Linked DNA regions of Homo sapiens. The protein of the gene in region 2 interacts with the protein of the main gene of each other region in a pairwise test. Each region holds a gene or a part of one and is shown on either strand. Other genes may lie near its edges.

Region 1 (15,190 bases), on a different chromosome or scaffold from region 2:
CTCCACCGATGCCTTGTTCAGACTTTTCTTGGCTACACACTTTATGGCTACCACTTCACGAGTGTCCTTCTGCGAGACAGGAGATTTGGGGACTCTGCCTTGAGGGGGCCAGGACCCTTGTCTGACTGGAAAGGCTCTATCTGGTTCCCTCTGTTCCCCCACCCCGCCCCTCCCCGGGTCTACCTACTGCACACCAGCACCGGGCTTCCCAGCTTTCCCTTGTGAGGCCAGTGAGGAATGCTGATTCTGGAATCCTGGCTTCCCGACACAGCCTCAGCCTGGTCTTCTCCAACCCTCGGCTAGCTGATCCATTTCTTTGCATTCTGGAGTGCTCCCGGCAGAGGCATGTCACTCAGGGTTCTAGAACCGCCCACTCTGCCTCCCAACTGGCTCCAGTCCCAGACTCCTCCCAGCCCACCAGGTAACCTGTTTTGAGCCTGTTCTTCAGCCACTGACCCTGCAGGTGGGTGCAGGTGCGCTCTTTAAGACCTAAGCGTGGCAGTCGGCTCCAACCTCCGCCGAGGGTCAGCTGGGGCGAGGCCGGCCTCCCGCCCCTAACTATTCCCACACTGTCGCTAACCTCTCAGAGTCTCCCCGGCCGGCACCAGCCGAGCTAGCTCGGGCGGGCACGGGGCCATCGGCCGGCACCCACCTTGGCGTAGGCCTTGTACACCGTGGCGTACGTGCCGCTGCCCAGGCGCTCGGTGAGGATGAAGCCGTCCAGGCGCGGGGGACCCCAGCCGGGCCCCGCCATTCCGGCCGCCTGCGCCCGCGCGGGCGCTTCCTCGCTGCGGGCGGCGGTTCCGGCGGGTTGCGGGGCGGGCCGAGCACTGGGTGGCTCCACGCTGCCCCCAGCGCCGCCCGCCGGAAATGCAGCGCGCATCGGGGACGCGGATCCGCCCGGCTCCCGGCGCCCCTCCCCTGTCTCTGGGCCTCGCCGGGTCACGCGCCCCGCCAGTTCCTGCAGGGCCCACGTGGGGATACGGAGGCCCCGCGAGCCTAGAAGTTAACAACGGAGGACGGCCGGCGTGGTCTCCGGGGACTCCTAGCGGGCGCAGAGGCGTCTAGAGATCGCCCACGTGAGGGCGCGGGCGGCGGAGCGGGCGTGTGTGGGGGCGACGGCGTCCGGGAGGCTCCCAGGGCCCCTCCCCAGGACCCGCAGCTCTGAAAGGAGAGCTACTGGCACGAGAAGGCGCCTTTGGAAGAGGCCGCGTTGGCTTCCCAGGCCTCCCAGCTGCTTTTCACTTTTCTGAGGAAGGGCCTTGACCTATTTATTGCATCTTAACTGTCCCCGCTCTCCAATCTTAGCAGCGGCGCCCAGCCCCTAATCCTGTGGGCTGCCCCGTCCTCCCAAGTCCACCAGACATGTGGACCCGTGTTGTCTGAAAATGTTTTTATTTTTACTTAAGCACAAAAATTGAGACGTAACATATACATTTGTACATAGAGGGGAAAAAATACCAGAAAGGAGTTCATAAAACCCCAGCCGCTGCCAGTATCATTCAGTGGCTGGGGCCTGCGGCTGTCTCGGGCCCAGAGCCGGAGGCTAGTTTTGTGGGAAGGCACCCCAGTCCACACACCCACTCGGCAGCCTCGAGGGACAGGGTGCTGGTTTTAAGGGTGGACTCCTACGTGTCCCATCACAGTGACACACCCCCCAGGGTGTGAACCAGACTCCACTGGGTATTAGGGGGCCCTCCGAGAGATGGCTTATCAGTCCCTGCTGAGGGATGCGGTTCTGGACTGGCTGGCCCTGCCCTTCCTGAAAGTCTGGATGCTGCTGATGGGGAGCATGGGCGGGGCAGGTGGCATCTGAGGCAGAGACAAAGGCAGCCGTCCCTCGGTTCGGGGAGGGGGGGGGGTAGTCACAGCAAACAGGGCCAAACCAACCACACCAGGACAGGCAGACCCCACCCTCCTAGAAGACGCTGGACGCTAGGCAGGACAGCTTGGGGTCAGTGTCCTTGGTCCCTTCCAGTCCCCAAATCCCAACCAACGGCATTGTACATTCAGAAAGTCTGAAGAGAGTAAGGCTCAGCAAGGGGAGGGCTCCAGAGGGCTCAAAGTGCCATCCCCTGCAGGAGGGTGCAGGGGGATAAAGGGCTATTAATCCGTTTCTCAGGAACACGAGGCAGGGAAGAGCTTAAGGCAACCAGCCTTCTCTGGATCCGTTTATGAGGCAGAGAAGAGCTTGAGGCAACCAGCCTTCTCTGGAAGCCTGGAGACCACTGGAGTGACCTGGGGAACAGATCTGTCCACCAGAACCTGTGAGAGGCTTATTCCCAGCCCAGGCAGGAAGGACTGGGCTGTGTCTAAGAAGCCAGATTCAGGCCAGGCCTGCAGGGTGGGGGAGTCAAGGCCCAGGACCCTGGCAGAAAGCTCCAGCTGGGATGGGCCCAGGTCAGCCTGTGATCCCAACTGTGTGGGGGTGTCTGTGTGTGCACAGGACGAAGAGAACTTCAGTCCCACTGCTTCCAGAGACAAAAGAATCCTACCAAACCATCACCAGAGAAGGAAAGAGAGCTTTGTTTTTTTTTGTACATAGAGGGGGAAAAAATTCCCTGTCCCTCCCGTTCCAGGGAGAGCTGGTCGCTGAGGGAGGAGGAAGAGCCACGGCAAGAACCCTGCCAGGTCTGTGCTGGGCACAACCACCACCACATAAGGCACCCACGGAAAGTGCAGCTCAGAAGGCAGGCGAGAGAAAGGCTGAGGGGGAGAGAAGAGAGGAGGACTAATTCCCCTGGAAGGCTCCTTGGGCAGCAGATGAAGCAGCTCTGTGGAAGGTTCTGCTGCTGAAGATGCCCTGGGAAAACTCCTCCTGGGCCTGCTGGAAGCTGGCCCCTGTCCGTCGGTAGAGGGAGTGCACCTGGCGAAGAGGGGTGGGGTGAGAGAAGCCTGTCCTTTGGGCCCACCAGGAAGCCAGCCATCCAGGTTATACTCCCAAAGGGGTCACCAGAAGCCTGGCACTGCCTGACCCCCCACCCAGATCCCTGGAGAAAGGTACTGGACCTTTGGGGGCCTAGGATGCCCAACTGCAGTGGTGAAAAACATCTCGTGGCAAGGGCAGGAAACGGTTGCCTGCCTCCTCCCATTTGCTGTCAGCCCTGCCCACACCACTCACCCGCTGCAGGAGGAAGACTGAGAGCACGGCACAGAGGGTGAAGAAGCCAGCCACCACCATCATGATGACTGATATGGCCAGGGAATGATTATCCAGTGTAGACAGGGCTGCAATCCAACCGCTATAAAGGGAAGAAGAGGCCAGAGGGAGCAAAGTGGGAGTGGGCTCCAAAAGTCAGCATAAGGGGCTCTTCTCCAAGTGGCTGCTGTGTCCTGACCATCACCTTGGCATCTCCCCACAGCACAGGGAGCCCTGTGAGCCAGAAGCCCTTGGCCTGTGAGGCCAGACCTCCGTGAAGGCTGACAGGCCCACACTACCCCATTCACAAGGGGAATCTTCTGGTTATGTGAGGTCTGAAAGGGAGGATGTGGTTGCTGCCTTCACAGAGTCAGAAGTAGCACCGGGCTGGGTGCTATGGCTCTCACCTGTAATCCCAGCACTTTGGGAGGCTGAGGCAGGAGGATCGCTTGAGCCCAAGAGTTCAAGACCAACCTGGGCAACAGAGGGAGGCCCTGTCTCCATAAAAAATAAAAAAAGGCCAGGTTCGTGCCTGTAATCCCAGCACTTTGGGAGGCCAAGGAAGGCAGATCACTTGAGGTCAGGAGTTTGAGACCAGCCTGGCCAACATGGAGAAACCTTGCTCTACTAAAAATACAAAAATTAGCTGCGCGTGGTTGCACACGCCTGCAATCCCAGCTACTCGGGAGACTGAGGCAGGAGAATCACTTGAACCTGGAAGGTGCAGGCTGCAGTGAGCCGAGATCATGCCATTGTACTCCAGCCTAGGTGACAGGGCGAGACTCCAACTCAAAAAAAAAAAAAATTAGCTGGCTGTGGTCATACATGCCTATGCTCCCAGCTACTTGGGATGCTGAGGTAGGAGGATCACTTGAGCCCGTGAGGTTCAAGGCTGCAGTGAGCTGTGATCACGCCACGGCACTCCAGCCTGAGCAACAGAGTGAGACCCTGTCTCCAAAAAAAAAAAAAAAAGAAAAGAAAAAAGAAAAAGGGCTGGGCACAGTGGCTCAAGCCCGTAATCCCAACACTTTGGGAGGCCAAGATGGGCGGATCACGAGGTCAGCAGATCGAGACCATCCTGGCTAACACAGTGAAACCCCATCTCTACTAAAAATACAAAAAATGAGCCAGGCATGGTGGCAGGCACCTACATAGTCCCAGTTACTCGGGAGGCTGAGGCAGGAGAATGGCGTGAACCTGGGAGGCGGAGCTTGCAGTGAGCAGAGATCGCGGCACTGCACTCCAGTCTGGGCAACAGAGACTCCATCTCAAAAAATAATTAATTAAAAAGGTAGCACTGGGCCGGGCCTTTTTCTGCTGCTTTGGGGGTGGGGAGTATGGAAAGCGTGGCTGCTCACTCCTGAGGACCCACCTTCTGTGAAGGAGGATCACTGGCCAACTTGCTGTCACCTGTCTGAGCCCCATGTCCTCATCTGTAAAAGGGATATCCTCATATTTCTTGACATCAAAACTTACTACAAAGCTACAGTCACTAAAATAGTGTAGGACTGGCATAAACATAGACATATAGATCAATAGATCAATGGAATAGAACTGAGATTCCAGAAATAAACCCATACACCTATTGTCAGTTAATTTTTTTTTTTTTTTTTTTTTTTGAGATTGAGTCTTGCTCTGTAGCCCAGGCTGGAGAACAGTGGTGTGATCCCGGCTCACTGCAACCTCCACCTCCCGGGTTCAAGTGATTCTTCTGCCTCAGCCTCCCAAGTAGCTGGGATTATAGGCACCTACCAATGCGCCTGGCCAATTTTTGTACTCTCTAGAAACAAGGTTTTGCCATGTTGGCCAGGCTGGTCTCAAACTCCTTCCTGACCTCAGGTGATCCACCCGCCTTGGCCTCCCAAAGTGCTGGGATTACAGGCATGAGCCACCGCACCCAGCCAACTCAAGCCTTCTGATTCCCAGTACAGGTGCAAACGGCAGTCATGAATCACAGCTTTTCTACCAGGGTCTTACTTAGGTAAGGAGTAATGAAATTGGGTCACTGGTCAAAAGGGACCAGATTAACAACAGCAGGGCAAGAAGCATGAGGGGTGGTGGGAGGGCAGCGTGCACTTGTTTGGAGGGCAAGGGGAGGCAACCTTTCTCTCCCCACTGCTCTGGACTTGCCAGCTCTGCCAGAGGGAGGGGACCAAAATAGCACCGCCCTTCCAGGCTCAGGCTGTCAGCCAAGTGCCAGTCTGACCTTTCTGCAATGCTCCCTGTGCACTGGGGCAGAAAGGAAAACATCAGCCATCAGCTTTTCTTTTGAGATTAATTTTGAGCTGAGGACTGAGGTACCCTGGAAACTCAAACCAGCCGTATGCTCAAAGAGGGCAGCCAGAAGAAGCCTGTCCAGGGGAGGTGAGGGAACCGTCTCCTTAAGTTACAAGGCATCTGGAAAAAGTTGCAGCTCAGAGTCTGCAAAGGCCTGGGCATCCATCAGCTTTCAGGAGGGTGTGGCAGGAGAAAAGGAAGAGGCTGCAATCCAGTGCAGGACACTGTCATGGTAGCCTAAAGAGTCAAGCCAAGTTCACCCACAATACCCTGGAAAGTGGAGAGCAAGGGAAGATAGTGTCTTTTTTTTTTTTTTTTGATACAGGATCTCACTCTGTCACCCAGGCTGGTGTCCAGTGGTGCAATCATGGCTCACTGCAGCCTCAACCTCCTGGGCTCAAGTGATCCTCCTGCTTCAGCCTCCCAAGTACCTGGGACTATAGGTGCATGCCACTGCAACAGGCTAATTTTTTTAATTTTTGGTAGAGACAAGGTCTTCCTGTGTTTCCTAGGCTGTCTCGAACTCCTGGGCTTGAGCAATCTGCCTGCCTCGGCCTCCCAAAGTACTGGGATTCCAGGCATGAGCCACTGCACCTGACCAATAGTGAGTGTCTTTTGATGCCTTTAGTATCAAGGAGAAAAAAAAAGTGAGTGGCTACTGATGAAGAACTGGAGAGAAGGCCCAAAGCAGATCCGAGCTGGCCCACTCACCCACTCCCCGCCATGGGAAAAGCAGGGCACTGGCGGGGCTCTGTGGGAGCTAGAAAACAGGGCAAGAGAGGCTGAGTCCCATATCCAAAGCCTAATTCCCTCTGTGATGCCCAGGTCTCACCTGTCCCCCAGGCCAGGGATGCCAACCAACTGGATGATGTAGATCCCTATTTGACAAAAAAATACAAAGAAGAACACAAAGAAGCTGAAAGAGTTGTCGGACCTGTGGAGAGAGAGGGAAATAAGTCACAAGAGGGCTTGGGCTGTGTTCCTCAGCATCCTTACTTGGTGTGACATCCCTCCTCACTAGGAGCCAGGAGGCAGCATGGGCAAGAGACAGAGCTCCAGGGGCCCAGCCATACCACCCGTAAGGACACGCACACACCCCCCACCATAATCAAGAAGAGCTTGCCTTTCACTGCCTTCCAATTTAAGGGGTCAGTGCTTGACCCCTTCCTCAAAGAGCTGATAAAGTTGCTCCCCCAAAGGACAATATAAAGAGCCTAACACTCCTGCAGTGAGCCAAGATCACGCCACTGCACTCCAGCCTGGGTGACAGAGTAAGACTCTGTCTCAGAAAAATAAGTAAATAAAAAACAAAGAACCTAACACTCCATCTCCTGGAGTACTTGCGTTTCATAACAGGCAAGAAAAACTAAGCCAATCTCTTAATAATAAGTAAATCTCTATATAATAAGTAAAATCTCTAATAATAAGTAAAACTAAGTAAATCTCTTAATAATAAAACTGTATGAGGCCAAGAATTTGAGACCAGCCTAGCCAACATGGCAAAACCCTGTCTCTACTAAAAACACAAAAATTAGCTGGGCGTGGTGGTGTGCGCCTGTAATCCCAGCTACTTGGGAGGCTGAGACAGGAGACTCACTTGAACCTGGGAGGCGGAGGTTGCAGTGAGCCGAGACTGCGCCATTGCACTCCAGCCTGGGTAACAGACTGAGATTCTGTCTCAAAAAAACAAAACAGGCTGGGCACGGTGGTTCACACTCGTAATCCCAGCACTTTGGGAGGCCGAGACAGGTGGATCACTTGAGGTCACAAGTTCAAGACCAGCCTGGCCAACATGGGGAAACCCCATCGCTACTAAAAATACAAAAATTAGCCAGGTGTGATTGTGTGTGCCTGTAAGCCCAGCTACTCCGGAGGCTGAGGCAGGAGAATCATTTGAACCCAGGAGGAGGAGGTTGCAGTGAGCCGAGATCGCATCATTGCACTCCAGCCTGGGTGACAGAGCGAGACTCCCTCTCAAAACAAAAACAATAGAACTTGAGGATACGTGGTAACAAAGAACAATGAGAAAAAAACAAAACCTGTACATCTGACTGGAAGAAAAAAATATTTGGGAAACAGGGGACACCAGACAAAACTCTCTCACGAGCTGAGGACTTCCATCTCTGTGTCCTTGAGGGCTAGATCACAGTGAGGGTTCAGGGCCTCCAGTGGTACAGGGATGGTTCAGCCACTACCCTAATCCCTCTTCCCAGGGCCTGCTGGGCTCCCAGCCCTGAAAGCATAAACCCTGAGGTACAATTCCAGAACCCCTGGGGGTCTGTAAGGTGTATCCAGCTATGTTCCCAGTATCTAGCTTAGGTGTTGGCAGTCTTTATTGGGAAGCATCAATAGTCATGGAGAAAGAGCCCTGGAGAGCACTCATCTGATACTACCAGAGAAGCACACCTTAGAGCCTCAGAAGGGAGTTCCCAAAGAGCGTCCCCTCCCTCTTCCCAGTAACGGCATCAGCCAGACTGGGAGCAGTGGGATGGGAGGTCCCTTCTCTAGGTCTCCTGTGCCTGGTCCAAGGACAGGGCCCAGAGCAGACCTCAGGTACAGAAACTGAGGAACGGGGCCCCCAATCTCTGCTCTGGGTGGGAACAGAGGAACAGAATGTAGGGAAAGTGGATTTCCCTACATTCTATTCTGCTCTAAGACTCAGATGGGGTCCCAGGGCCTATAGCCCTTAGCCTGCTACCTGGGATGCCAGCCATAAAGTCTCACCCCTTGCCCCGGCCTCACTCACCTAAAGGCCTTATAGATGGGTCGGTACCAACAAAGGAAGGCACAGGGAGTGAAGATCAGAAACCACAGGATGGAGAGGCCAAAGTCCACTCCCTTGGAGCTGTTGCCCGAGAACCAGGCCAGGCAGGCAAGCAGGTTCAGAAACAGAGTCACTGAATGCACTGGGGAAGGGGACAGGACAGAGTTATGACTTGTGCCACAGTGGCTGAGGGGCTCCAATGTGGCAGCCACTCCCTAGGAGAGGTGAGGTTCATGCTGCGAAGGCAGCTGCTGAAACAGAGGAGCCCGCTCTGTACCTAGGCAGGGATAGTTCCCATATCCTGGTTTTCTGGGACCTCAAAACCAGGGATCAAACTACGTTCCTGAGAGGTGATGGGACAGCCCGGGTATCTGAGGGGTGTGGAGGGAGGATGCAGACCCAGGGCTGGTCCTTGGGGAAGGAAGTCTTTCTCTTAGCAATGCTTTTCCCTGGCCCTGGATGGCCCCTGATGGAGCTGCAGGGGGAGTCTCCTTCCTCACCCCTCAGAGTTCACAGGCCTGTGGGCAGGGAAGGCCTTCACCTAAGGAGGGCCTTTTAGTGCAGTGAGCTCTGAAGGAACTTGGAAGCCTCTAGTTAGTCCCACCCTCCCTGATCGGTGGTCTGGACTGCCCCTTTCAAGGAGGTTTCCAGACAGGGGGCAGCCTGTGGGCAGAGGCATCTCCCCAACCCAGCCCAGGCACTGAGGAAGGCTGGAGTCTGCTGAAAGCCTGTATACCAGGGAGGAGCAGCCAGGACCAAGATGGGGCTCTCAAGTCACACCCAATTCGCCCTTGCGCTTGGAAGGCAGGAGTGGGACTCACACATCCACAGATAGTAGAGCATCTTGCATATCCGCTGGTAGTCGGCAGGGATCTCTGTGGAGAAATCCTGATAGAAGCAGGGCTTCACAGGGCACCACGAGGGCAGAGGGGGCCAGTTGTTCTGTCTCACTGGGTAGGGCAAAAAGAGTGACGAGGTAAGGGCCCAGCCTCAGAAGGGGCATCAAGGTGCATGCACGCCAGCATAGTGTATGGGCCAAACCAGGGTTCCCAGAGGGGCTCCAGCAAGCGGGGCTTGGAGTCTGCATGGAGCATGGAGTGGGACAGAACAGGATAATGGAACCCAAAGAGATACCAACAAGCTCACATGGAGATAAAAGACCCCAAATGCACTGGGAAATACAGACAGCTAAATGGCCTAAGTGATTATTTTTATTAACAAGCAGCCCATAAGTGTGAGAACTCAGTTCATCATCATTAGCAAGGAATTGTGGGACCAAAGCCCCTATGCTATCAAAGAATCAAGGAATTTGAGAGCTAGGAAGGAGTGCAGAAGTAATCTACAGCCATTACAACTACACTGCAGGTCTCCTGACTTGCAACTTACTGCTCTTCCCAGGACCAGCATCCTGTGATGAGAAGAGCCCCACAAAACTCTAAGGCAGCTCAGGGTGAATGCTGGGAGGCCCTCCGCACAGGTTTCAGGACACTCTTCTATGCCAGGCAGGGCAGCCCCAGGCCCCAGCAGCCTCCCTTACCATGCAAGTTGGCTACAGTGTTCTGCAGCTCCCGCTCCTTGCGTTCCAGCTCGGCAGCTTTCCTGTCCAGTTCTTCCTGCTGCCGGAGCAGGCCTGCCTGGGCTGCAGACACCACGGCCTGGAGAGAACAGGGGAGGTACAGGGACAGCCAGACACAACAAACAGAAACAGTGTCAGCCTGGGTAGGCAGGCAGAGAGGCCTTGCCCCAGGCAGGGACAGCCATCAAGGAGTCCCAGAAGCAGTCCCCGCCCCACAGAGTGTCTTAGGTACCAGAGACCACCTTAGAGAGGCCAACCTGTCTTCCACTGCCCCCACACCTTCCTGACCCCTTGGCCATGACTAAGCTGTCCTCTCCCCTCATCCCTAAGCTTGAGTTGGGAAAACTACCCCCATTGGCTTCTCCACCTCTTCCCCATACTGGGTCAAGGCAGCGCTCAGTGATTGTGACCTTTGGGAAAAAGACCTCACAAGAAACTAAACTATAATAAGAAACCCACAGACCCAAGCCTCATTTGAAGAGCCTGGTGGATGTGTGAGAAGGAAAACAGTGCAAGCCTGCTAACAGTGAGTGGAAAGGGGAGACACGTGAAGGCAGATGGCGTGTGCCTGAGCCTCAGGATCTGTACAAGCACCCTGCCCCATGGCCTGCCCCCAGGAGCTGCCTCCTGAGGTCCCCCTAAACTGCAATTGGCTACACCCCAGGACAGCCCCTTAGGTGTGGCCCTGCCCTGCCTGGCTTTAGTGGCATGCAGAGTCCACACTTATCTCCTCTCCAGGCGGGGTAGAGCCTCTGAGTAACAGTAAGGGACTGACTGTATGTGAGGCTGAACAGACCTGGCCCCGGGGCCCTGCACCTGCTGGCAGCTGCTGCCATTTGGGCCAGGTTCCTCCTGAAGGATGAGACTACAGTCCTTTTTAGGGAGAGATCTCAAACTGGTCATTTCACAGGATGACAAACCAGGCACATGTGTACACACACACATGTATACACACACCAACCTCTCCAAAAGCTCTTCAAAGACCTAAGGCTGACGTGGAGAGCCAAGTTTCAGGCACTGGGGGCGGAAGCAGGAGCAGAACTGACCCCGCTGTGCCACGCTGGGGGTCTTGACCTCCTCCAAGTCTGTGACGCCAGCTGAGAAGGACCCAGCTCCCTACAGCCCACCACCCAGCTGCACAGAAAGGCAACTCCGCATGTAAGGCCTGCCTCACCTCCACAGGGCTCTGGGGCCTGGGAGGGGTGTGGGGCAGGCTCCGGGTGCCCTGCCCTTCCTCCTGCTCATCTACATTAGGCCTACCTTCGGAAGCTTTCGCATGTAGCTGTCTCTGAGAATACTTTCTCCTCCTAGGAGCATCTGCCTCTCTGAGAGCTCGCTCACTGCCAGGAATTGGGCAGGCGGGAACTTGCTGGCCTGTCTAAGCAGGAGCTGCAACACACAACTCCACCATGGGTCACGCTCATAGGGGCAGCGAGGGGTGCAGCGGGAGGGCAGTGAGGCGGCGCAGTGGAGCACCAGGCACAAAGCAGGCAAGATTCACAGTATTTGGTGAAGGGACAAAGGAAGACAGGAAGGAAGGTGAGAATTAATGAAGTTAAAAAAAAGAGAGAGATTCTGGGCCCCAAGGAAGAGAGAACAAGCCAAAGGCCCGAGGAGGACCTGGAGGGGTACAACAGGGACAAATGCCCTCTCTGGAGGCACCGAGGAGCCCGGCCTGGTGAGTAGAGCTTATTTCTCAGTGGTGGTGGTGGGTGGGATGGAGGGAGTAAGGATATTAATTGGCAGAGCAGCCCCTCTACTTGTAGGTGACCAGCTCCGAACAAATTAGCAAGAGGGCCCTTAGGGGGCCAAGGCTGAAAGCTCTCTGCTTGCCCCCAGCCTCAGGGCTCAGCTACTGGTCTGGATGATTCCCTCACTGGAGAGAAAAGGCCAGAGTTCTTTGTCAGCACTACCTGGGGGGTCGGCTGGGTTGGTTCCACTGATGGCTGGAGAACCGCTGGCTGTGAGGACCCAGGGAGTTGGGTGACAGGAACTGTTGTCGCTGCATTTGTCTACATGGAACAAATCAAAAGACAGAATTGAGTGGGACTCCATTAGCTGGTGACGAGGGGGCAAACCCACAGCAGGATGAGTGATGTGCCCCTGCCTGTGAGGGGACTCCCTCGGGGCCTGCACTGGGCCTTCCCCTGTGGCTTCCCAGCCAACAAGCCTCAGGTTCAGGCCATCTGATCCCTAACCCGGCACCCCTGGGCTCGCTGGGTCCAGCACACTTGGGCACTGCCCTGACCTCCTTGGGGAGGGGCCCCGGTCACAGATCCCAAGGGGAGAATTTTACAGAGCGTTTGGTGGCTTTGCCATCCTTACCCTGCCTCCCGGGTTCATGTTAGGACTGTCCCTTTGAGGACTGCCGCTTCTCAGAGCTGCTTCTGTCCTTGCCAAGGATCCCTGCCCCGGACACCCCAGCACCACCCTAGAGGGCCATGGGACTTGGAAAGAGGGCCTGCTCACCAACCTCTGAGAAGGGGTTGAATTCCGCCAGGCCGCCCTGCGGGGCGTTGGTCAGCTGGGTCACAGAGGGATCCTGAGAAGGTGAAAAAAAGCCCTTAGACACAGTGGAGAAAATCCGGGCCAGGGGCCGGCAGGCGAGCCGGTGACGCCTGACTGAAGCAGGGCAGCTGATCACCCTCCCGGGACCCTGAGAAGCCTCTCTGGAAGGGTCCTGTGCCTGCCTCTGCCACACCACAGCTGCGGTCCCTTCTCCCTTCCCCCTTCCTGGAAAAGGTTCAGCCCAGAAGAGACCCAGAGCAAGCTTTACCCAGAAGCTTGAGAGTACACACCACACAGGCTCCTGTTGGTGCCCTATACAGATTCAAAATGGTTCATAGTATTTACCTCTAGGGAGTGGGTTTTTTTTTTTTTTTGAGGGGTGGGGTGCTGAGGGGCAAGTGAATGGGGTGGTGAGGGTAGAGACTTACTATTGACTTTATAACCTTTCTGTACTGTTTTACTTATTATTCATTTATTCCTCTTTTTTTATATTTTTTTATTTTTTCGAGACAGAGTCTTGCTCTGTCACCCAGGCTGGAGTGCAGTGGCGCAATCTTGGCTCACTGCAACCTTCGCCTCCTGGGTTGAAGCGATTCTCCTGCCTCAGCCTCCTGAGTAGCTGGGACTACAGGCGGCCGCCACCATACCCGGCTAATTTTTGTATTTTTAGTAGAGACAGGGTTTCACCATGTTGGCCAGGATGGTCTCAATCTCTTGACCTCGTGATCTGCCTGTCTCGGCCTCCCGAAGTGCTGGGATTACAGGCGTGAGCCACCATGCCTGGCCATTCCTCTTATTTTGTAAAAGACAGTCTAAGGTAGCCGGGTGCAGTAGCTCATGCCTGTAATCCCAGCACTTTGGGAGGCTGAGGCGGGTGGATCACCTGAGGTCGGGAGCTCAAGACCAGCCTGACCAACATGGAGAAACCCCGTCTCTACTAAAAATATAAAATTAGCCAGGTGTGGTGGCGCATGCCTGTAATCCCAGCTACTCCGGAGACTGAGGCAGGAGAATCACTTGAACCCGGGAGGCAGAGGTTGCAGTGAGCCCAGATTGTGCCATTGCTCTCCAGCCTGGGCAACAAGAGCAAAACTCCATCTCAAAAAAAAAAAAAAAAAAAAAAGTAGTCTAAGTTTCTAGAACAAAAACATGCTGCTGGCTGCCAGTACTGATTTTATTAAATCGGGCACACTTGCTAAGAGCAGAGATATGATGAGCTGAGGTGAAAATTCAAGAAAATGTTTCTGGGTTTCGGGGGTTTTTTAAAGTCTTTTCATAAAATCCAAGAATGTCCTCAGAACACAACCTTGTCTCCCTTTCCCATCTGATCTCTGCATGGGGCTCTGCCATCCTCTTTACTGTGCCCCTGCTGGCCTGGAACAGTTGTCTTCACCCTGCCCTGCCCCAAGAAGAGCTCCTCCACACCCTCCCCTTCCTAGTAACAGATGCAGGGCTCAGGTCCAGCTTCACAGCCATGCCTGGGCTCCATGAGGAACAGCCCTGAGGGTGGCCAAATTCAGGGCTGTTCCTGCCTGTGGAGACACCGCTTGGGTTCCACACCTCACCCCACACCCCTAATTATTAAACCAGATGCTCCCAAACTTCAGGCCCAGCCTCACCTCCACTGGAAGCCTCTGCAGAGCCAGTTCTTTTTTTTTTTTTTTTTTTTTTTTTTTTAAGACAGAGTCACGCTCTGTCACCCAGGCTGAAGTGCAGTGGCATGATCTCCACTCACTGCAGCCTCCGCCTTCTGGGCTCAAGCTATTCTCGTGCCTCAGCCTCCTGAGTAGCTGGGATTACAGGCGCCTGCCACCACACCTAGCTAATTTTTATATTTTTAGTAGAGATGGGGTTTCACCATGTTGGGCAAGCTGGTCTTGAACTCCTGGCCTCAGGTGATCCGCTCACCTCAGCCTCCCAAAGTACTGGGATTACAGATGTGAGCCACTGCACCTGGCCTCCAGTTCTTTTTTTTTTTTTTCCTTTTTCTTTTTTAGAGACAGGGTCTCACTCTGTTGCCCAGGCTGGAGTACAGTGGTGCAATCATAGCTCATGGTAGCCTCAAACTCCTGGGCTCAAGCATTCCTCCCACCTCAGCCTCCGGAGTAACCAGGACTACACACATGAGCCACCAGGCCTGGCTGATTTTTAAAGTTTTTTTGTAGAGATGGGGTCTTGCTTTGTTGCCCAGGCTGGTTTTGAAGTCCTAAGCTCAAGTGGTCCTCCCACCCTGGGCTCCCAAAGCACTAGGATTACAAATGTGAGCCACCTTGCCCTGTCCAGATCCAATTGTTAAATACAATGCTAATATTAGACATAGCCACAGAGTGACCCCCTCAGTTTACAGATGTAGAAACTGATATTCACCATGATCCTAGGACCCAAAATGGGAGCTCTCTCCTTACTCTGAATATTTATAGAGCTGAGGGTCAGCATTGAATATGTTCTCTGGTTTTATCACAGATACTTCCTCTTATCTCTTATCTTCCCACCTGAGCCACCAGTTCATAGAGGGTATGAATGTCTGACTGCCTCCAGGCATACAGCCAGAACTCACTGTGTCTGGACGGGCCTCATACTACAGCCTCCACCCCTTCCAACCTCCTCTGCGACAGACTGTGGCTATGTTCTTCCTGCTGAACACCACCTCTGCCCTGATGGCTCCTGCAACTTGGACAAAGTGACAAGGTGAAGTTCAGGAGGCTCTGTGTTGCTGAAGAATTGGCCTTGAGGTTATTTCATGCCTGAATGACCAGTGGTTTACTACCAGAATCATCTGGCTTCCTGCAAGGAAGATTTGGGGCTTGGTATCTGTTCCCCTCTCAGACTCAGCAGACACCTAGCCACCGCTGAAGTCACTGAAATCGGATCTACCATCCACAGAAGTGGCTCCTCGAGTCTGAGTCACCAGAGGACAGAGGAAGAG
Region 2 (16,369 bases):
CAATAACCTTTCACCTAGGATTCTGGAATTCATTGAAAACCCTTGTCTAAATAAACTATCACTAGAGGTTGAAAAATTGTGATTTTTCTAATTACAGCGTTCCACAAAGGTTAACTTTTTAATATTCTAAGAAATGCTTTTAGTAAATGTCATTTTTCTATTTTTTAAGATACAAACATTTTACTTCCATTTATAACTTTCAAATAATAAGTAAAAGTATTCTTTATATCCAGAGACCGCTTTACAAAGAACATTTCGACAATCCAAGGAAAATGCTATGTAACCACATAGTACAATCTTCTGTTTATAAAGCATTTTTTTGCTACATAAGTTATTTGCTTCATTTTTAAATAATGTTTAAATTGCAAAAGTAATGTGTCAGTATTAAAGAAAGTTCAGGCCATTTAGAATAATATAAAGGAAAAGTACCACCTCCCCTCTCTCTCTCCCAACAACTCATCCTGCTCCCAAAGGATAAAGCTTGCATATCCTTCCATAAAAGCACATATATCATATATAAATTACATACATCATGTTTGTGTATATACAGTATATAGTTATTGAAAGATCAAATAGAATAATACTATACATGATGTTCTGTGCCTTGCTTTTTTTCCACAACATTATGTGTGGACAGTAGCCTTAAAAGGACATCTCAAAACACCTCTTTTTATCGCTGCATAGTATTCCTTAATGGGAATGTGCTACAATTTAACCAGTCTCATCTGATGAGTTCTGCAACTTATGTCCACTGCAACAAATATTGCTGTCTATATATTGCAACATGCTAGCACAAGTATTTCTGATAGATTTCTGAAAGTCCAAGAATTGAAAATGCTGAATAAAAGAGTAGGTGTGGGCCGGGCACGGTGGCTCATGCCTGTAATCCCAGCATTTTGGGAGGCTGAGGCGGGCGGATCACAAGGTCAGGAGACTGAGACCATCCTGGCTAACATGGTGAAACCCCGTCTCTACTAAAAATACAAAAAGGAATTAGCCGGGCATGGTGGCGGGTGCCTGTAGTCCCAGCTACTCTGGAGGCTGAGGCAGGAGAATGGCATGAACCCAGGAGGCGGAGCTTGCAGTGAGCAGAGATCGCACCACTGCACTCCAGCCTGGGCGACAGAGTGAGACTCTGTCTCAAATAATAATAATAATAATAATAATAAATAAAATTTTAAAAGGGTAGGTGTGTTGTAAATTTTTTTCTAGGTATTAACCAAAAGCTCACCCCAAAATATACAATTTTCCTCACTTCCACTAACTGTGTCCTAATGCATTTTAAAATTACAACAGTCCACTACTGAACAAACCTCAAGTAGTAAAGCCTGCCAAAGAATCACAAAGCCTAAAATGAGAATGGGAACTAATATTTACCAAGTGCTTAAGTGTCAGACACTGCACTTGACCCTTTAGAATATCTCAATAACACAGCAATTCTGTGAGGTAACATAATCTCCATTTTCCAAAAGAGGAAGCTAAGGCTCAGAGAGTTTATCCAATGCTATACAGTTTTATAAGCAACAGGGCCAGCATTTGAACCCAGGGTTATCTGGTACCAAAGTGAGACCATACAGAAGCTGCTCCCAACTGGGGCCAAAGTGAGGGGCTCTTAAAAGGGGGGACTCCTGATTAACCAGGAAGGAGATGGTTCCAAAATGTTTGCTTACAGGTTCAAATGTTAATTTCATGTTACCGCAAAGAGTCATCTTTTTCCCCTTCAGACTCTGCCTATGAGCCCACTCTCAGGCTGTGCTTAGCAATCCAGCTCCACCACAGCAACAGTGAGCCCACAACCCATAGAACCTAGAGGGGCTGATCAACATATTTTTGGAAAGGTGATGGGGTGGTGGAGGAGGAGGAAGCGAGAAGCAGGTGGTGGGTTAGCATGGCAGAGTCAGATTATTTTGGATCCATATCAGTTGTCACAAAAACATTATGGGGGAAGTGGAACTACCGTACATCTGAGAGAGAACCACAATGAACTGGCACAGTCTGTTTATACCAACTTTCCCTGCCCTAAACACTTTCTATTTCTGCTGCAAAGACATGTAGGGCCCAGTAACTTTAGGATGGCACTTAATCACATAACAGAGACAGACAGCTGGGAGCTCCCTGGCCTGACAAAACAGGTTAGACTGGTGGCAGGCAAGTGCCTGGCCCCGCTGCCTTGCAGCTCCAGTGGTGGGGTCTGGGGGCTGCTTTCAACCTTCCTGGGGAGTTAGGTCTGTAGCTACCTTCCCTTGTAGCTGCCCTGGCCTGTCAGGGAGGAATGCTTATAAGTGTCCTTTGGTGGGTGGGGGAGTTCCTTTCTGTTTAAACGTTAAGCATTCACAGTGTGTCTTTTATTTTCCTTAGGTCCTCTGCATCCAAGCAAGCACTTATTATGGGGTCTATTTGTGCACATCACTGCTAATGTAACATTGACTACTCTCTGAGGATAATGGAATAAAGGGAAGGAAAAAGAGGGAGAGAGCGAGTGGGAAAGAGAGGGTGAGAGAGGGAGGGAGGGAGGGAGAGAGAGAGAGAAATCTCTTCCCCTTTCCCCATTTTATCTCCATCCCAGACACAGGGCTCAGAAAAGCTCCAAGGGCACAATTAAGAATTGAAAAGTCATGAAGAAAATTGATAACATAATGTGATTTAAATAGGGAGAAGTAGGCGTCAAATTGAGTGATTTGAGGAGCACGTTAAAATGCTATTACAGCCGGGTGCGGTGGCTCACACCTGTAATCCCAGCACTTTGGGAGGCTGAGGTGGGTGGAGGTCAGGAGTTCAAGACCAGCCTGGCCAAGATGGTGAAACCCAATCTCTACTAAAAATACAAAATTTAGCCGGGCATGGTGGCGGGCGCCTGTAATCCCAGCTACTCAGGAGGCTGAGATGAAGAATTGCTTGAATCCGGGAGGTGGAGTTTGCAGTGAGCCGAGATTGCGCTACTGCATTCAAGCCTGGGCGACAGAGTGAGACTCCGTCTTGGAAAAAAAAAAAAAAAAAAGCTATTACAAGACCAAGAAGCATACAAGGTTATATGGTGACCTCTCCCTCCCACTCCTATTTCACAGCCATCTAGTTCCTCTCCCCCAAGGAAACCAATGTTACTCATCTATTGCATGTCCTTCCAGAGATATTTTACGACTATACCAACAAATATATAAATTTATATATATATAAATTTATCTTAAATGTAAACGCTGTTCTTCTCAGATTAAAGTGTCACTTAAACACAAAAAGGTGGCAGAAATTACATTTTAAAACTTTTTCTCAAAATAAAGAGTTTTGAAATTCACAGTTGAACTCTTTCATTCATAAACATTTAAAAGTTAAATTGTTTGCCTCCAGAAATTAAGTTGGGTTCCCAGCACACAGTGGATACTTTAAAAATGTTTCCTTAGGTCTTTTTGTCGTTCCTTATTCAGAGCCAAGAGGACAATTACTCACTTCCTCTATTGATATAGAGAAATCAAATTTTATTTTTTACTATTAAAAAAGAGAAGTCTTGAAAAATCTTTACTGGATTTACTTGTGTTCAAAGATTTGCTTGACAGTAGTAATCATTTCATTGTGTTTATCAAAACATCATGTTGTACATCTTAAATGCAGACAATTTTTTAAAAGATTTGCAAACTGAATTTTAAGATCAGTTTAAAATCCCCATCCCAATAGTCTTCAGTATACTATGAATAATTAGCTAATCACATGACATTAGAATTCAGATTAGGGGGACCTTGCAGTAGAAGACCAAACATACCTGAGAGAAAGAAGAAATGTTTTCTCACAATTACAGACAGTCCTTAAAATATTAATATTTGGCATAACCTGAGACATCACATATTGACAAACTAAATTTCTTTATACATTTAAAGAAACACTAATACTCAAAGATATAGAACAAAATTACACAGGAATGCTGAGATGATATTGCCTTTTCTGAACAGCCATCAGTTACACTAGATTTGTAACTTGATTGTTCACAAAATAAAACAGTACACTGTAGCACAACCAAATGGCTGAAAGATGGAGGTGAGTTTTAAAAGTACGTATCAGCAAAGGAAAATTCCACTGTTGTCTTTAAGCCTTAAGATAAAGGTGATTGAACTCCTCAGAACACGGAGTACTCTCCAGAAAATATATTTTCAAATCCCCATTTATTTTCCATCCCTTGAGCATGTGTTTACGAATCTGACAAATCTACCTCCTATTTCACATTGTCCTTTAAGAAACTGGGTCTAGGGCCTATTAAATAAAAATATTTTCACGGTTATCTATATAAAGGCAATTTTCATTTGCATCATGGCTTGGAGTCAATCACCTGCAATGACCACGTGCTTCAATTCCCCCCTGTCTGTCTTCTCAGGAAACCTCCCAGCTTACCTGCAGGCCTGGCATCAGTCATTTATCACCAACTGACACAAACCACAGAGCTCAACAACGGTCAGGGATGGAGGCCAAAGTCTGTGTTGAGACCTATAATTCGCAATCACCAAACTCGGTTTTAGACCTGGTCCTGTTTCAAGATCTGTGTAGGTCACTACTTCATCAAAACTGGAGGGCTCTTAACAGCGCTTGCCCCTTACACGGTTTGGCTGCGAGGGCCTGGTGGCCATGAGCCCCGGCTGTCAACAACTAATCAAGAAACATGAGAAGCAAGGCCCAGAACCAAGGGTAATTTTCACATTAAAGGTTAAGGTTTCTGCTTTCCATTCTCTATCAGGGCACCTGGATGGAAACTGAATAAAGAAATCCCTCAGTATATGTGATAAAATAAAATTTTCCCCGTTGGGAACAATCATGAAGTGGCTCGTCTATTTCGTGTGAGGATGCCAATTCAGGGGCTTTAACACCACTGAATTACATTCAAAAAGAGAATACCTGACTCCACTTTGGAGTCATGGGCAGGGCGAGGGGGGAGGCAGGGGGCACAGAAGAGGAAGAGGGATGACTCAGATTATGGCTGACATCCATGTAATAAAGGGAGATTTGTACTGACCACTGTGCATGTAACACACTGTGTACCATTAAATCTAGAAAAGGATGGTAGCATCAGCCCACCCCTAACAACAAAAGATGGCTGACTCCGGAATTAAAACCACGACTTTTCCCCTTCATACATTCGGAAATGTATCTCAAACTCACTCCCTGTTACCGTCTTAGGAATACAAAAGCTCCTCTTCGTTTGAGAAAGCAAGTAACTGGGTATAACTTTCCACTCGGGACATAAGAGCAGGAGGCGTGCCTGTCTCCTCGTCCAGGCCTGACATGGTGGTGCCACCCACTCTGGGTCCTGGACCACTGCTCACCTTTCACCACACTTCATGCTCTGACTTTATCATTAAGAGACCTGGGAATGTGGACCTCAGGAGTGGGTACCCACCCAGGCTGACCATGGATGTGGCGTCCAAGAGGCCCCACTAACCCATACCCAAGCAAAGACACTTTCAGACTTCGTCCCCACTCCCTACTGTGGCCTGTCCCCTGAGGTGATGCAGTCACCTGGGAAGCCACCCACCTCCAGCCACCACGCAGGCACACACACCCTATCGAGCTCAACTGGAGCGGGAGGTGGTGGGTAAGAGGTTTGCAACAGAGACCGAACGGGGCAGACGGAACCGGACCACCTCTGTCCCTTTCATTTTCCTGGGTTCCCAATGCAGAAACGTGGAATAGGGGTGGAATTGTTTTTAACGGTAGCAGAGAGCCAGAAAATGCAGACAGTTGACCTTGGGAACCAACACCGTCGCAGCGGGAAACGTAAAAGAAACGGAACACGTTGGCAAGTGAAGGGGGAGCACCGCGCGGCGCCAGGAGGAGCGCGGCGGCCGAGGGGTGTGGAGGGCGGGGGGTGTAACAGGGGTGCTCACCATAGATCATGGCCAGCCCGGTCTCGTGCAGAAAGCGCACCCGGCGGTGCTTGAAGAGCCAGATGGTGAGGATGGTGAGCGTGAGCAGCAGGATGAAGGTGAGCAGGCTCACGCTGTCTTGCCGGTGGCTCTCCTCCGCCTCCTTCTCAGTAGCGAGCTCCTCCATGGCGCTGCTGTCCTCCGCCGCCGCCCCAGAGGAGGAGGCCGAGGCCGCGGCCGCGACTCGCAGCCCCCAACCCAGCAGCAGCGGCAGCAGCAGCAGCCGCGGCGGCGGCGCCCCGGTAGCCCGACCCGAGCCAGGGCGCGCCGCGTCACCAGGCTCCATGGTCCCGGGGCCCCCCGCGCCTCCTCCGAGCGGGGACCAGCAGCCCGCGCCGTCGGCGGGTTCTGGCAGCACCGCGGACCTGCCGGAGTGGCCGTGGCCGCTGCAGCTCCTCCTCCTACTCGCGCCGGGCCGGGGCTGCGCCCGGGGCCGCGCGGGGGAGGGGCGCGCGCAGTGCGCAGGATCCCCAAGCACCGCCCCCCGCCCGCGCACCTGTTCGTCCCCCGGCCGCGCCACGCCGCACCGCCCCGCGGGCCAACCGAGCCACCCAGGCGGGGCCGGGTGTTGCCCTCGGGTCTGCGGGCCGGCCGCCGGCTGCTTGCCTCTCTGCGCTTCTCACCCCGTCCTGGCGCACCTGCCCAGGCAGTCTGGGGTCGTGGGGCCAGTTCATGGGCAGCCGCCGCCGCACTTCCGAAAGGGGACGCCAGAGGTCGCCGGCGCCTAGCGGGAGCATCGGCTTGGAGTGACTAGCCTTGCGGTCTCGAGTCCCGTCTCTGGCGCCACGGCGAAGTGTTTAATCTCAGGCCAGTGTGCAGCCGCCCTGGGCCCAGTAAAGTGGGGGCTGTCAGTGAACCGAGCAGCCCCGAAGCCACGTTAGCCCCTACACCTCTCTTTCCTCATCTCTCAGGTTGCCCTTCCAGCCCCAGAATCTGCTAGGTTTCATTCAAACCTCTGTTCTCATCAGACTCAAATGTGAGGACTGATAAGGAGTTGGAATCGGGGGAGGGCATTGAAGTATCTCCTTCCTCACTTGAGGGAATAGACTTCGTCTGCGCTGTGCTACTAATCCCCTTGGGGAATAGGGTTGAACCAGAAGGAACTGAACGCTTGCCATTCCTGGTAGATGAGCAGTAGCTGGTCCTAAGGTGGTGGTGGGGGGTGGGGGTTACCCTGATGACCCTTTCTTTTATGTTGCTCACCTGGTAGCTCAGAGAGTCTTTTAATGACTCTTAAGACCAAACCCAGCTCTGAACAAAATTATGGCGTGGACTCTGAAGGATGAAGCCTCTTGGAACAAATTCTCAGGAAAACTAGAATCTTCAATCCACCTTGCTCCTCTGGTCAAGGAAGAAACAAGATCAGATTAATCACTGAGTTCCCAGTGCTTAGCACTGTACTCATGTGTTTATTGAACCACTCTGAAATCTCTACCAAAACTGCCCATGTTTTCGCTCCCAGGGGAGTTTGCATTTTTAAGAGGATTCATTGAAGAAGGTGATGCTTAACCAAATGAAATAATAGGGTAGAGGTAGCATTAGGTAAGAAAACTCTTTGGAGTACTGCAGCCTTCCTGGTTCCCCTGTAGGTGAGCACTCTGCCAAAGCTGTTTAGTGGTTTCTTTAAAGCAGGGAAATCTCTTCATCTACATTTTAGCTAGCCCCTTTCCCAACTCCTCTAGGCAGTCACTCAGCCCCTGCAAACATCCGTATACCTTGAAGTTCCACACAGGTTTCCAATAAAATTGCAAATACTTAAAACCTGGATGGGCACTGTGTTGGTCATAATATTATGCCCCTTTGGGTGCCCAGTACTCAAGGACAGAATTTCTCTCTTTAGAAAAGGGCAACTCAGGAGCTACCTTAAAAGTACAGACTTCTTAGTATTTGTGGCGGATTGTATTTTTTAAAAAGATGGCCACAATCATATTTCCAATCCCAGAACCTTACCATCCCCCATCAAGAAGGGGCATCTATGTTCCCTCCCCTTGAACCTCAGTGGACCTTTGTGACTCCCTCAAAGAATATAATGTGGTAATGGAGATTATGTGATTTGTGAGGCTAGGTCATAAAAGGTAATCTAGCTCCTGCCTGTTTCATTCTGTCACTTTCCACTCTAGCTAGGCTGGGCACGGTGGCTCACGCCTGTAATCCCAGCACTTTGGGAGGCCAAGGCGGGCGGATCACCTGAGGTCAGGAGTTCAAGACCAGCCTGACCAACATGGCAAAACCCTGTCTCCACTAAAAATACAAAAATTAGCCGGGTGTGGTGGTGTGTGCCTGTAATCCCAGCTACTTGGGAGGTGGTGGCACGAGAATCACTTGAACCTGGGAGGCAGAGGTTGCAGTGAGCCAAGATTGCACCACTGCACTCCAGCCTGAGTGACAGAGTGAGACCCTGCCTCCAAAAACAAAAAAACAAACAAACAGACAAAGAAATCTAGCTACCTGGAAGCTGACATACTGAAGAAACCATGTAGAGAGACCATGTAGCAATAGAGGTAGATGCCACAGGAGACCCAACTTTTTGAGTGTTCCCAGCCCAAATGCCACACATGTGAATGAATGAGTCTTCAAATCAATTCATTCCCAGCCACCATCTTACTGTAGACATATGAGAGGCCCCAAGCAAGAACCATGTCGCTGAACCTAACCAACATCTGCAACTGTAGCATAATAAAATGATTGGTGTTATTTTAAGCTACTAAGTTTGAGGGTGGTTTCTTCCACAGCAATAGATAACCAGAAGAGTATTTATTATGTAAAGTAGTTCCCTTGGGTAGAGTATGAAAAGACTAGTCCCAACCATTCACAAATACACACCAAAGAAAACACTCCATTATCTCTACATATTTATGTGTGAAAACTAACCTATATAATACAGGAGTTCTGATTTCAGTTAACACAGAATAATCACACTAAACCCATTACCTGCTACTGAATACAGCTATAAAATGTGAACAGAATGCATGCAGCAACTATTTGAGGACTCTGGAAAGTAAATTGTACCACATAAACTGAGGAAAAACAACAGAATTTGAAGTAAAACTGAACTGGCGGTGAGTTTACCATTTTTTTCCTCCAGTCTCCACTAGACTGGACTCAAGGCAGCTTAACACCCGGAAGGGAGCATCAACATGGACAGAGAGAGCTCCAGGAAAAGCAGAAAATTGGTCTCCTAATATTCAGAGAAAGTAGGAGAAATGTGCCATTTTTTTTCTTTTCTCCATTCTCTTACATTTTAGCCAATAAGCAATCCCACTGTGGCACCTCAGTCAACAGTGACAATGGAGACAGCAATACCTTCAAGCACCCAAAAAATGCTAAGGGAGGGGAGAACCTTCCTCTCTGTTTGAAGTAGCTCTGGTCCCAAGACAGTGGGGCCAAAACCTCAATGATATATATTTTTTCACTCTCTCTGTCCTGATGCTTGGCCCAAGACATGGGCAAAGTTTCAGGAAATACATAACAGAGAGGATTAAATAAAGACCCAGATTTCTGGACAGGCACAGTGGCTCACCCCTGTAATCCCAACATTTTGGGAGGCTGAGGTGAGTGGATTTGTTGAGGCCAGGAGTTGGAGAACAGCCTGGGCAATGTAGCAAGACCCTGTCTCTATGAAACATTTAAAAATAAAATTAGCTGGGCACTGTAGTGCTTGCCTGTAGTCTTGGCTACTCAAGAGGCTAAGGTGGGAGGCTCACTTGAGCTCAGGAGTTCGAGGCTACAGTGAGCTATGATCACACCACTGTACTCCAGCCTGGGCGACAGAGCGAGACCCTGTCTTTAAATAAATTAAATAGTCTAGATTTCTTGCCAATTGATTAAAAGGGGAACTCCAAGGCATTACAAAGTACCAAGGAGACAGTAGAGAGGAGAGGACCTTGGGAAAGGTCCTCATAAAGTTTTTATGAACTCCTAGGTTCACCCCAACCTGCACATGGATCTGATCCTAAACAGCATACCAAAGACTGTGATAACTGAACTAAGAGGCAGACCACCACCCAAGCCCTAGACTAGCCACTGGATAAAACACATGTAGGACAGATCTGAATAGCATTACAAACTTTTGAAAACTGAATTGACTTTGGAGCCACTATCCACAAAAGGCATGTCAGAACTTGTGATCTAAACCCAAGCATGTCTATTACAAACTAAAACAAAAATATGAATATTTCCCCATAGTATTAAAACAAGATACAAAGTCCTATAACATAATATTCAAAATGTCCAGGATACAACCCAAAATTATTCAATACCTGAAGAACCATGAAAATCTTAACTTGGGTGGGAAAAGGCAAACAACAGACACCACTGCTGAGGTGACACCAATGTTGGAATTATCTGAAAAAGACTTTAAAGCAGCTATTATAATGATGCTCCAACAAGTAAGGACAAATAATCTTGAAATGAATGTAAGGATAAAAGGCTCAGCACAGGAGTAAAAGATAAAAGAAGAACCAAATTGAAATTTTAGGCTGGGCACAGTGGCTCACACCTGTAATCCCAGCACTTTGGGAAGCCAAAGCGGGTAGATCACAAGGTCAGGAGTTCCAGACCAGCCTGGCCAACATGGTGAAACCCCATCTCTACTAAAAATACAGAAATTCACTGGGCATGGTGGCATGTGCCTGTAATCCCAGCTACTGGGAGGCTGAGGCAGGAGAATAACTTGAACCTGGGAGGTGGAGTTTGCAGTGAACTGAGATCGCACCACTGCGCTCCAGCCTGGGTGACAGAGTGACACTCCATCTCAAAAAAAAAAAAAAAAATTTTATAAGTGAAGAATACAATAGCTGGAATTTTAAAATTGGATGGATGCAATAGCAGAATAGAGATGAAAGAGTCAGTAAATATGAAAATAGATCAATAGAAATTATCCAACCTGAATAGCAGAGAGGAAAAACTGAAAAATAAATAGAGCCACAAAGACCTATAGGAGATAATAAAATATCTAACATTTGTGTCTTTAGAGTTACAGAAGGAGAAGAGAAACAGTGTGGTACAGAAAAAAAGATGTGAAAATATAATAACTGAAAACATTCCAGATAAAGCAAAAGACACAAGCCTGCAGATTGAAGAACCTCAGCAAAACCCAAGCAGGATAAGCCCAAAGAATCAAAGCACAGACACATTATATTCAAACTGCTGAAAAGAAAAACAAAAAAATATGTTTAAAGCAGAAAGATAAAAATGAAATATTACATACAGGGTAACAACAATTCAGATGACTACGGATTTCTCATCAGAAACCAAGAAGGTCATAAAGACATGCACAGCATTTTTAATGTGCTGAAAGAACTGTTAACCAAAAATAATACATCCAACAAAAATAGATTTCCGTGTGAAGAAATAACACCAATACTGTACAGTCTCTTCTAGAGAGTCAGACAGTTGAAGAAAAGAAAGCTACATACCAATATCTCTCATGAACTTAGACATAAAAATTCTTAACAAAATATTAGTAAATTGAATCTAACAATGTATAAAAAGAAGTGTACACCATGACCAAGTGGTATTTATCCTAGGATTACAAGGCTTGTTCAACATGAGAAAATCACTCAATGCAATCCACCATATTTACTGTCTAAAGAAGAAAAGCTGCCTGATCATATTCACTGATGCGGAAAAAAGCACTGACAAAATTCAACATCCATTCATGATAGCTTTCAGCAAAATAGGAATAAAAGGGAACTTCTTTGACCTGATAAAGAGCAGATACCCGCCCCCCCCAAAAAAAAAAACCGCACAGAATATCTAGCATTATTCTTAAAAGACTGAATTCTTTCCCCCCAAGGTCGGGAAAAGGCAAGGAAGTCCACTATCACCACTCTTAGTCAACATTGTATTGGAACTCCAAGTCAGTGCACTAAGACAGAAAAACGAAATAAAAGGCATACGTATATAGCAAAAATCACAATATGTAAATTTTAATGGAATGCTGGGGAAACAGAGGAACTAAAAACAGAGGGAACAAAAAGAAAAGGGAGGAAAAAAGAGAAATTCTCAAAGGATATTAGAAAAATTCTCCTATTCATAGATAATATGATCATCTACTTAGAAAAATCCCATGAAATCTACAAAATCCTAGAACCAAATAAGCGAGTTTAGCAAGGTCTCAAGGTGCAAGGTCAGCACACAAAAACCAATCATATTTCTATATACAGGCTATGTGCAACTGGAGATTTTTTTTTTTTTTTGGTGGAGTCTGGCTCTGTCACCTAGGCTGCAGTGCAGTGGTGCGATCTCGGTTCACTGCAACCTCCGCCTCCAGGGTTCAAGTGATTCTCCTGCCTCAGCCTCCCAAGCTGGGATTACAGGCACCCACCACCACACCTGGCTAATTTTTGTATTTTTAGTAGAGACAAGGTTTTGCTGTGCTGGCCAAGCTGATCTCGAACTCCTGACCTCACCTGATCCGCCTGCCTCGGCCTCCCAAAGTGCTGGGTTTATAGGTGTAAGCCACTGCACCTGGCCAAAAAATCTTTAAAATGTATCATTCACAATAGCATAAAAGAAAAATATTTAGGTATAAATTTTTAACAAAACATGTCCAGGATCTATATGCTAAAATCTATAAAATGTTGATGAAAGAAATCAAAGAAGACCTGAATAAATGAAGAGACATGCCATGTTCATGGATTGAAAGACTAAGCAAAGATGTCAAATCTCTCCAAATTGATATACAGATTTAATAAAATTTCCATAAAAATCCCAGCAAAATGTTTGGTGAATATAGCCATGTGAAATATAAAATTAATAGGAAAGTCAAAGTAACAGACTAGCCAAAACAATTTTGAAAAAGAAGAATAAAATTGGAGGCCTCACACTATCCAATTTAAGATGTACTGTAATGCTACTATGTAAAGTAATAAAGTATAATTAAGGCAGGGTAGCATTGGTGAAGGAATAGATATATACATCAATGGGACAAAATTAGAGTCCAGAAATAGGTCTACATACAAAATTGATTTTTCACAAAAGTGCAAAAGCAATTAAATGGACAAGGTACGTTCTTTTCAATGAATTGTTTGGAATTATTGGGCATCCATACACAAAAAGAATGAACCTTGAGCTAAATCTTATACCTTGTACAAAAATGAATTTTATGTAGATTATAGATTTAAATGTAACATACAAAACTGTGAAACAGTTACAAAAAAACATAAGAACACCTTCCTGATCTTGGATTAAGCAAAGAGTGCCTAGATATGACACCAAAAGCACAATCCTTATATGAAAAAATTGATAATTGGACTGCATCAAAATTAAAAGTTTTTGCTCTGCAAAAGACACTTTTAAAGTAATGAAAAGACAAGCTACAGAGTGGGAGAAAATATTTACAAAACATATTCAACAAAGGACTTATATCCATAGTACATAAGAAATTCTCCAAACTTAATAAGAAAACAACCCAGTTGAAAAATGGGCAGAAGGTTTAAACTAACACTTTACAAAAGACGGTATGTGGATGAGAAATCATTACATGAAGAGATGTTTAACACCATTAGCCATTAGGGAAATAAAAATTAATACCATGATTGCCACCTATTAGATTGACTTAGAATATTAGAAATAGAATGACTAAATAAAAAATACTGACAACACCAATTGGAGATGAGAACGAAGAGCCCCTGGAACTCTCTTACATTGCTGGTGGGAATGCAAAATGGTAAACCACACTGGAAGAGAGTTTGGCAGTTTCTTATAAAGTTAACATGCATTTATCCATAAGAACAAGCAATCTCACTCCTAGGTATATATGTATATATCCAAGGGAAGTGAAAATGTGTTCATCCAAAAACCTGCACATGGATTTTTTTGTTGTTGTTTTGAGACAGAGTCTCGCTCTGTCACCCAGGCTGGAGTGCAGTGGCACAATCTTGGCTCACTGCACCTTCCGCCTCCCAGGTTCAAGCAATTCTTATGCCTCAGCCTCCCAAGTACCTGGAATTATAGGCATGTGCTACCATGCCCAGCTAATTTTTGTATTTTTAGTAGAGACAGGGTTTCACCATGTTGGCCAGGCTGATCTTGAACTCCCGACCTCAAGTGATCCACCCGCCTCGGCTTCCCAAAGTGCTGGGATTACAGGTGTGAGTCACTGCGCCCAGCTTTTTACATGGATGTTATTAGCAGCTTTATTTATAATAGCCAAAAACTGAAAACAACCCAAATGTCCTTCAGTGGGTGAATGAATAAAAAACTGTTGTATGTTCATACAATGGAATACCATTCAGCAATAAAAATGAATGAACAATTGATATACTAATAATTTGGATGAATATCAAAGGCATTATGCTGAGTGGAAGTGAGTCTCAAAAGGTTGCACACTATATTATTCCATTTTATGACATTCTTGAAATGATAAAAGTATAGTTACAGAGAATGGATCAGTAGTGTCTGGGGCTAAGTGGGAGGGGAAGCGTATAACTATAAAGGGATAACACAAGGGAGGTTTGGGGATGATGGAACCATTCTATATTCTGATTGTAGTGATGGTCGTATGAATCTGTACATGTGTTAAATTCAAATAATTGTACAAGAAAAATAAATATTGCTGTAAGTTAACTTAAATAATTTCTCTCTGTCATGTGTTAACAAATCCTCTGCTTACCCTTGGACATGCTACAACTTTATATTAGTTTAAGACGGTGGTTAAGGCCTCAAGAAGTCCCCAAGAGCTATGTCCTGGGTTCAGTTACCCTGAAATGTGGCAGATGAGGAAAACTGAAACCTTAAATTCAGGCACACCCACAGGATACTATGAAATATATGGGCATAAACACTAGCATTGGCGGGGCGTGGTGGCTCACGCCTGTAATCCCAACACTTTGGGAGGCCGAGGCGAACGGATCACTTGAGGTCAGGAGTTTGAGACCAGCCTGGCCTACATGGTGAAACCTCATCTCTACTAAAAATAGGAAAATTAGCCGGGTGTGTTGGCGGCATCTGTATTCTCAGCTACTCAGGAGGCTGAGGGAGGAGAATCACTTGAACTCAGGAGGCAGAGGTTGCAGTGAGCCAAGGTTGCGCCACTGTACTCCAGCCTTGGTGACAGAGGGAGACTCAGTCTCAAGGAAAAAAAAAAAAAAAGAACCAGGAAGGAAGCTTCTCCCCTCTGGCTGCCTTCCACTCTCCCACAAGTGCCTCCCATTGGCAGCACCTCAGCAGCAGCAACCAGGCATCCTAAGAGGACCTCATATCTATTCTGCATGGCCTTTGCTCTGTACCGCCAGGTTCTGGTAATCCTACCTCTTCCCTGTTGTTTTTCCAAGTTTAGGGATAGTAGCTGCTTCTTGTAGTTATTATCTCTGGGTTCTCTCACAGTTGCCTTTTTGCTATCTCATTTCTGCATTACCTATGTAACCAATTCCTTATCTTAACCTCCTCTGTGGGAACATGTAGTGGCCTGTTTTCCTGTGGACGCTGACTGATACTCAGCCTTTGGAGACTTGAAGTATAGAGTCAGAGGGCAACCAGTTGTGAAGCTGACCCTGAATTCCTTGTGTTTGTTTGGCCTCTGCTTGCATTTGTTCCTGCACTTGAAGATAAAATCACAATTTCAAAGCGCGGTACACAGGGCCTATGGTAGACTTTGCTGGTGGTTCCTAATATTTCTGATTCCCTTCTTGCAAAACAGATGGATTGCATTGATTGCATTTTTCACCTCTTTGACGTTTGAGGTGACTTTATGACTTGCTTTGGCCAACGAAATGAGAGTAGAAGTGGTGAATGTCATTTCTGGGCAAAAGTATTTAAGAGCAGATGCATGTGTTCTCTCCACCTGCTGCAGTGAGTCCTAAAGCCTCACGCTGAGATGGTAAATTATAGGGTGGAAAAGCCTGTGTGACATGTAGTCTGGGAGATAATTTTTATTTTACTTCACGGTTGTCACCACAGTGTAAAGTAGCCTATCCTGACTAATAATACATTTGTGATTCACCCCCTGCCACCTCCCCTCCGTCTCACTCTTCCCTAAATGCATCAAGATACCTTACACCTTTGGGCTGTGCCTATGCTCCACCTCTTGCCTTACCAATCATTTTGACCTGGCAGCTGCTGCTAGTTGTTCAAAGCCCAATTCAGATGCTACCTACTCCAAGAAGCCTCCTTCATCTGGATCTGGGATGTTTCCTATATTTTCTCCTAATAGCTCATGTTTACTCTTTTTTTTTTAGACAGAGTCTTCTGTCACCCAGGCTGGAGTACAGTGGCACGATCTCGGCTCACTGCAACCTCCCCTCCTGGGTTCAAGGTATTCTCCTGCCTCAACCTCCCTAGTGACTGGGACTACAGGCGTGCGTCACCACGCCTGGCCAATTTTTTTTTCTTTTTGTATTTTTAGTGGAGACGGGGTCTTGCCATGTTGGTCAGGCTGGTCTCGAGCTCCTGGGCTCAAGTGATCCACCCATCTTGGCCACCCAAAGTGCTGGGATTACAGGCGTGAGCCACCGCCACACCTATAA

The links.
Region 1: the proteins of SLC9A7 (region 2) and SCAMP2 interact in binary tests that used the Homo sapiens proteins (3 or more experiments, as listed by UniProt).

What each region holds. Positions count from the first base shown.
Region 1 is NC_000015.10:74,842,352-74,857,541, forward strand, and holds the end of SCAMP2 (secretory carrier-associated membrane protein 2), read right to left. Parts: intron 12,299-15,190; coding exon 12,230-12,298; intron 11,769-12,229; coding exon 11,670-11,768; intron 11,146-11,669; coding exon of another isoform or gene 11,017-11,145; intron 9,836-11,016; coding exon 9,718-9,835; intron 9,131-9,717; coding exon 9,002-9,130; intron 8,323-9,001; coding exon 8,163-8,322; intron 6,351-8,162; coding exon 6,249-6,350; intron 3,243-6,248; coding exon 3,122-3,242; intron 2,867-3,121; coding exon 2,732-2,866; 3' UTR 1,379-2,731; downstream 1-1,378. Other genes in the region: serine/threonine-protein kinase ULK3, read right to left, coding at 1-69, 188-322. UniProt on the Homo sapiens protein: Functions in post-Golgi recycling pathways. Acts as a recycling carrier to the cell surface.
Region 2 is NC_000023.11:46,752,844-46,769,212, forward strand, and holds the start of SLC9A7 (sodium/hydrogen exchanger 7), read right to left. Parts: upstream 6,276-16,369; 5' UTR 6,187-6,275; coding exon 5,862-6,186; intron 1-5,861. UniProt on the Homo sapiens protein: Golgi Na(+), K(+)/(H+) antiporter. Mediates the electoneutral influx of Na(+) or K(+) in exchange for H(+). May contribute to the regulation of Golgi apparatus volume and pH.